Homo sapiens: one gene and its partner. The protein of the gene in region 1 interacts with the protein of each later gene in a pairwise test. Each region holds a gene or a part of one and is shown in the gene's direction. Other genes may lie near its edges.

Evidence for each region.
Region 2: the proteins of LHX6 (region 1) and A2M interact in binary tests that used the Homo sapiens proteins (3 or more experiments, as listed by UniProt).

The regions. Positions count from the first base shown.
Region 1 is NC_000009.12:122,204,958-122,208,777, reverse strand, and holds part of LHX6 (LIM/homeobox protein Lhx6), read left to right. Parts: intron 1-3,820. UniProt on the Homo sapiens protein: Probable transcription factor required for the expression of a subset of genes involved in interneurons migration and development.
Region 2 is NC_000012.12:9,070,898-9,074,717, reverse strand, and holds part of A2M (alpha-2-macroglobulin isoform a precursor), read left to right. Parts: coding exon 1-158; intron 159-1,846; coding exon 1,847-2,065; intron 2,066-2,231; coding exon 2,232-2,359; intron 2,360-3,820. UniProt on the Homo sapiens protein: Is able to inhibit all four classes of proteinases by a unique 'trapping' mechanism. This protein has a peptide stretch, called the 'bait region' which contains specific cleavage sites for different proteinases.

The DNA.
Region 1 (3,820 bases):
CTGCAACCTCCACCTCCTGGGTTCAGGTGATTCTCCTGCCTCAGCCTCCCGAAGTAGCTGGGATTACAGGCGCCTACCACCATGCCCAGCTAATTTTTTTGTATTTTTAGTAGAGATGGGGTTTCGCCACGTAGGCCAGGCTGGTCTTGAACTGCTGACCTCAGGTGATCCACCCGCCTCAGCCTCCCAAAGTGCTGGGATTACAGGCGTGAGCCACCGTGCCCGGCCGAACCTTACATTTTTTAATTCACTGACTTGTTTATTTGGAGACATTTCCTATGTCTTGTCTGTGCCCAGCATCCATGAATCTGTTGCTAGGAGTGGAAACAAGTAAAGTGTGGTCCCTACCCTTGAGGAGGCCAGAGTCTGGAGGGGGAGGCAGATCCCAACAGTTACAATACAGTGTGACAGGGGAAGCCATGGGAGCTGGGGAGGGGGAAGGGGGCAAAGGAGAGAGGCAGGGAAGACTTCCCAGAAGAGGCAACCTCTAAGGCCAGGCCTGAAAGCTGAGGCATCAGGGAAGGCATGAGACACCAGAGCTCTCAGGGAACCCTGAGCCATTCAGCATTGTTGGCAGGCATGTCTGGGAGGATGAGAGGAGGAAAGCGAGAGCCTTGAGGCTGCCAGGTGGAAGAGTCTGTATTTTATGCTGCGGCAGTGTGGGGTCCTGGAGGGCCTGCTGCAGAAACATCACTGTAGCAGTCTTCAGAGACTGCTGGGTTGGAGGACACCCAGTAGGAAGCAGGGATCCCTGGAGGTCAGTGGGTGTGGCAGTCCCTCGGAGGGAGAGGGTCAGAGCATTAGGGCTGGAGTCAGGAGCCCTCCAGTTCAGCAGATCCCGGTCTTGGTGTGCTCGGAATCACCTGGGCAGCTTGTAAATATACAGAGATTCCTAAGCCTCGCTCTCAGAGAGTCTGTTGGGGTGGGATATAGGGATCTGCGAGTGTAATACTCAGCCTGTGTGATTCTAACGGGCAGCCGGGGTGGGGACAGCTCCTTTAGGATGGTACCTCTGGCTCAGCCTCCTGATTGAGCTCAGTACACCTAGTATGTACTGAGCTCTCTGTGCCGGGCACCACAGGAGAATGTGTATGGTGTGGAGGTACAGACAGCCCTGGACAGATACATTTGTAAATAAATGGTAGTGCCTAACGTAAAATCCTGCAGAATCTGTAGTGAGTGAGCATGCCCCAGGAACACCATCGCCGCTGAGACTGTCACATCCATAGGAAGAGCTGCCGTTTGCTGAGCTCCTTCTGTTCAAGGCAGCTACTTCTCACATGGCATCTGGTTCACACCTCCCAGCCACTTTGTGGACATAGAGATGGCCTTCTCATTGTAAAGAGATAAACAGATTCCGAGAGGTGACATGACTTGTCCAGGGATGCAGCGAGTCTGTCGGACTCTGAAGTCTGCGCGGCTCAGTAATCACTTCCTTTTGTGCAGCACTTCATTGTGTACACAGCCCTCTCTCCGACCTCATCCTTCATAGTCTCCCTGGGAGGGTGATTGCGATGACCTCCATTTCACACTTGCAGAAACGGAGGCTCAGACAGAGCAGTGCTCATCCAGAATCACAATGTGAGCATGGGCAGAACTGGCCGGGATCCTAGAGCCACCTGCCTCAGAGCTGTCCCTTCCTGTGGGAGGGGATTCATCCTATTAGACCTGGCTCTGGGACTGCAGAAGTGAGCTGACATGATCCCTGCCCTCAGGGAGCTTGTGGCTTAGCACAGGGTGTGGGCAGTTACATTGCAGGGGAATGGGCAGCTGGAGTAGGCGAGAAACTTGACCTTAGAGGACCCAGAAGAGGAGGCAGTGAGCTCTAGGGGAGAGACAGGGGACAAGAAGAAGGGTGTTCCACATCAAGAGAACCGCATGTGCAAAGGCCCAGAGGCATGGAGGAGCTTGGGCCGGAGGGGACCCTGGGGGACGTTCAGTGTGGCTGAGGTCCAGGGAAGTGGGGAGAGCCGACAGGGGCCACAGAACAAAGGATCATGGAAAGAGGGTCTTGGACATTATGTGGAGGGCAGGGATGGGCCCTGGAGGTACAGAGGGCTGGGCTCAGTGCTTGGAGAGGAGCCTTTGCCTCCTGGTTGCTCAGCTAAGCTTGTGGTTCTGTCTCATTCAGCCTGGGGGATGAGCCATGCTGGGGGCTGTCAGATTTGGCTATAGACAGTTTCTGGCTTCTGGATTTGGCTGCTGAGCCAGAGTTTTCCCTTGCTGGGCTGTGTCCCCAACTTTGCACCCAGAAAGTCTGCATTAAAGTGTCTCTCCCTCCTTCATGACCTTCTGTCCTCTCACTGTCAGGCCTTTCCGCCAGCTCCTAGGGACTTTTCTTGTCCATAACTCTCAAATTCCTGGGGCTTGGTGGGCGGCAGGGTGTGGTATGTGTGTGGCCAGCACAGGATTGTCTGGGCTTTCTTCCAAGTCCTTCCAGGCCTGAGCCTGCCTAGCTGTGAGGAGACTCAGTGTCCCCATGGGGCTGGCCCCTGAACCCACTCATCTAGACCAGCACTGGCCTGGCCAGGAGAACAGTGCTCTGAGCACTCAGGGGAGCATCCCCTGCCTCCACCGCATCGTCATTTGGCCACACACACCTGTGAGGTTCCAGAGCCACATTTCTTCCTGGTTGTGTCCCCTGATCCCACAAATCCAACACTTGGAAAGTTCTTAGAAATCAGGGCTAAGCTGTCATTGATCAGTGGAGGAGACTGAGACCCATGGAGGGGAAGGGTCCTACCAGGGTCGCCACTCTTGAGAGAGCTTTTCCTAATAAGGGCTAAAAGCCAGGCATTCTGGAGGCCAAAGTGGAGCAGTGGCCAGGGTGGGGAAGGAATGCCCACCCTGGCCACTCTGGAGTTAGGCCAGCTCGGAATCCCAGCTCTGCCACCTCCCCTGTGAGATCTGGGAATGCAATTAGTTTCTCTGAGCTGCGGTTTCTACATCTGCAAACTGGGGATAATAATAGTTCCCACTCCGTAGGGTTGCTGCAGAGAATAAATGCATAATGTGTGTAAGGAGCCCAGCACAGAGCCTGGTGCACAGAAAATGCCCCCAGGTGTTGGTTATGATCATGATCACTATTATGGTGATCATCATCATTGCTTTCCTCCATCACCTCCTTGTGATAACCAGTTCTGGGCAAGTAACATTCCTGATCAGAAAAGGGAACAGCCATGTAGTCATGCCCACCAGATGCCCCTCACACTTTACTGTGAAATGACACATTGCCATTGACCAGCCAGCCAGTGATCCTTGACCTGAACTTCAGGGAACTGGCTGTGTCAGCAGCAGTGAGATGTCAACCAAGTGCTAGAGGTGGGAGTGGGAGGGGGAAAGGGACAGACAGTCCTGATCTCCCACTGTGTATCGGGCACCCAGTGTGTCTGAGCCACGCACTTCTAGGCTTCGTGCATGTGAAGATTAAGCGCATGTGAAGTGCTTAGCCCGTGGCCCTGTGGGTAATAAGCAGTCAGCCACTATGGTCACGGTGACCTTGGAAAGGTAGAGGCAATGTGCTTTGGTAGGGAGAGCTTGCTGTGAGCCAGGCCTGGCCTCCAGTGCCAGGTCCTCCTCCTCGCTGTGTGCCCACGAGCTCACTCGCTTCCACCTCTTTGAGCCTGAGTGCCCTCCTTGTAAAACAGAACGTTGGAACTCCCTCACGGGGCTATGGTGCGGCTTCCGTGAAATCAGGCACAGAAGGTGCAGGGTGAAATGCCCAGAAGGCTTTTGCTGCTGCTGTTGTATCTCATTGAATCTCTCTGATTCTCAGAGAGAGATTTTGTCATCCTTGTTTTAAAGATGAGGAAACAGGCTC
Region 2 (3,820 bases), on another chromosome or scaffold:
AGGCTCCCTCTGCTGAGGTGGAGATGACATCCTATGTGCTCCTCGCTTATCTCACGGCCCAGCCAGCCCCAACCTCGGAGGACCTGACCTCTGCAACCAACATCGTGAAGTGGATCACGAAGCAGCAGAATGCCCAGGGCGGTTTCTCCTCCACCCAGGTTGGTGATTTGCCAAAACCTTTTATTTCACCTTCAGGTAGCAAAAGATTTGAATGAAAAAGAAACAAACACATCCAAGAAGAAAAAAATACAGATGACAGTAACTTGAAATGAGGAAAAGTTTTCAGTATCCAAGGATAATGGAAATAAAAGCAAATCAAAGTCAAAGAGGGCCAAAAGGAAATGCTCAGAATCCCGGCACCCCATCGCTGTGTTATTATCCATCTCCTATTTCCCATAACAACACTGCCTTCCTCAAGCAGCAGTGGAGCACCAGCAGAATGAAGGAGATGTCTCCTGCCATTCTCCTGAAAGCTCTAGGGTCTCTTTCAAACTGTTCAAAGGAACTCTACTCAAAATCCAACAACCTCTCCTCGCAAATCTCTCCATTCTTAGGTCCCCTTTAATAGGCTTTTCTCAAAACTACACATTTTGTGCTTCCCCTATTCACCTTTTTTTTTTTTTTTTTTTTAAGACAGAGTCTTGCTCTGTCACCTAGGCTGGAATGCAGTGGTGCAATCTCGGCTCACTGCAACCTCCATCTCCCAGGTTCAAGCGATTCTAGTGCCTCAGCCTCCCAAGTATCTAGGATTACAGTCATGTGCAATCATGCCTGGCTAATTTTTGTATTTTTAGTAGAGACGAGGTTTTGCCATGTTGCCCAGGCTGATCTCGAAGTCCTGAGCTCAGGCAATCCATCCGCCTTGGCCTCACAAAGTGCTAGGATTATAGGTGTGAGCCACTGCGTCCAGCCCCCTATTCACCTCTTAATACACAAACATTTATTCATCAGGAGCATAAAGAACTGTCTTTATTCATCCAACCTCCTAAATCTAGCTATATAACCATGTATCTGAACAATTCATTGATATGTACACAGCAGAAAGTTTTATCTTCAGAGAATTCGGATGTTTGCTTATATACCCTAAAACGGAAAAAATGTGACAAAATGGCATTCCATCCTATTTCCATTGTATTAATCTTTTATCATATGAATGAAAAAAACTAAGTAATTTTGTTAAAGGTTATCATTCATTTATTAGAAACATATTATTTGAAGGAGGCCAAGCAGGTTTAATGTTGTTGAGGATACATACCAGCAGACATTCACTGGGAACAGGAAATCATCCAATAAAAAGGGAAAGCCAAATAAAAATGTCATTAAATCCAGAAGATAATTATAATACTCATCTTTTATTTCTTTTGGAGAAACTGAAGCATGACTCTGCTCATGGCTGCAAAGAACCTTGGGTTCTCTCCAGGACACTGACCTCAGCAACTGAGCAAAGTTTAATATGGGAGAGAGCCAGACTGAACTTTGCTTGAGTGGTGGCAGATATGAGCATAGTTGTCAAGAAAGACATGTTAGCAAATAGCTGATGCCAATAACTGATTGCCATTCACATGTTTTCCACATTCCATGTCCCACATATACTTACAGAGAGAAAAGGATCAATTTTCTGATAAATAAAATAAACATGTAGGGCATACAGTCCAAGGTAGATATGTGAATGTTATGGTTCTTCAACTATCTAAAGATTATAATCAATCTTGAAATTACAGCTCCTATATTTAAGTAGTGAGGGAAGTAGGAAATCAAAGTCCCTCACATGGGTCTTTGAAAAATATCTCAGCCCTCAAAGCCTTATAATGCCCAATGGGTTCTCTCACTCATCTGTCTCTAACAGGACACAGTGGTGGCTCTCCATGCTCTGTCCAAATATGGAGCAGCCACATTTACCAGGACTGGGAAGGCTGCACAGGTGACTATCCAGTCTTCAGGGACATTTTCCAGCAAATTCCAAGTGGACAACAACAACCGCCTGTTACTGCAGCAGGTCTCATTGCCAGAGCTGCCTGGGGAATACAGCATGAAAGTGACAGGAGAAGGATGTGTCTACCTCCAGGTGAGACTCTTGGGCAGGTGAGGACAGGACAGATGAGGACAGCAGCTGTTCTCTCTGAGAAGTCCTAACTCAGAAAACAATGGGACAGATCAGAGAAAGGGTTAGGGACGTGGACAGGAATTCTGGGAAAGGGCAAAAAACTGATTTTGTCTTTGATGTTCTATAGACATCCTTGAAATACAATATTCTCCCAGAAAAGGAAGAGTTCCCCTTTGCTTTAGGAGTGCAGACTCTGCCTCAAACTTGTGATGAACCCAAAGCCCACACCAGCTTCCAAATCTCCCTAAGTGTCAGGTAAGACCTTCTGACTCTATCACCTAATCCTAAGAATAACCACCAGTCTTCTTTCGGGAACTCCTCTTTAAGTAAAGCAGTGCAACAGTAGATATTTGCACTATTCACAAAAAATGCAATGTATTCTCTTAAGTTGATATAATTTCTCAATGATGGGGTTTACATTGTCCATCCAGGATCTACTATTGTGCAACCTCATTGTTTAAAGGGTAATAATTTCCCTCAATAACAACTAAGTAAATATTACCCATTGCCTCTGACCTGAATTCCTTGTTATGTAATGAAATCCTATATTATTCTTGCTTTATTGAAGATAGAGATGAAGAATTATTGAAAAGTTTGAATAGAAGGAAGTAGTGACTCCTTAGTTAGAATTCCTACTGGCAATAATAAATCTCAGGTTATATATGATATAATTAATTTGGGGGGAAGATACACTTATATGCATCAATATTTAAATAGCTGCAGATCTGATAAAAAACTCTCTCTCCACAAACATATTATTACTTGGTTGGAGATACTATTCAGGAAAAAAGTTAGGACAAAATACATGTAACAAATAACTGGCACACATCAAAAAGAATGAGATCATGACCTTTGCAGGAACATGGATGGAGATGGAGGTCATTATCCTTGGCAAACTAGCACAGGAATGGAAAACCAAACACTGCATGTTCTCATTTGTAAGTGGGAGCTAAATGATGAGAACATATGGACACAAAAAGGAGAACAACAGACACCAGAGCCTACTTGAGGGTTAAGGATGGGAGGAGGGAGAAGATCAGAAAAAAACAACAATTCAGTGCAAAATTTAGTACCCAAGTGATAAAGTAATCTGTACACCAAACCCCCATGACACGAGTTTACCTATATAACAAACCTGCATGTGTACGCCTGAACCTAAAAGTTAAGTATATATATATATATTTTTTTCATTTAATTTGGTGTATATATATGCCAAAAAATAAATTAAGCAGTCCAAATTTCGGATGCAAACTCTCGGGGACAAGACGCTAGGTGTTTCTAAGTGTTTTGTTGAAAGCCAGTGTTTAAGTAAACATTATAAATTATTGTTGTTTTTGTAAATAATGTAGACTGAAATTTATTATTCATAATATACATCATTTTGTCAGCTGAAAGAAAATAAAAGTAAACAAATAAATAAAATAACTGGCATAGATTAGAGGTCACAAACAGCCTGTGCATCACTTGTAGAGCTTTCTTAAAATGCAGATCCTCAGCCGGGCGTGGTGGCTCACGCCTGTAATCTCAGCACTTTGGGAGGCCAAGGCGGGCAGATTACCTTAGGTCGGGAGTTCAAGACCAGCCTGACCAACATGGAGAAACCCCGTCTGTACTAAAAATACAAAATTAGTCGGACGTGGTGGTGCATGCCTGTAATCCCAGCTACTCGGGAGGCTGAGGCAGGAGAATCACTTGAACCCAGGAGGCGGAGGTTGC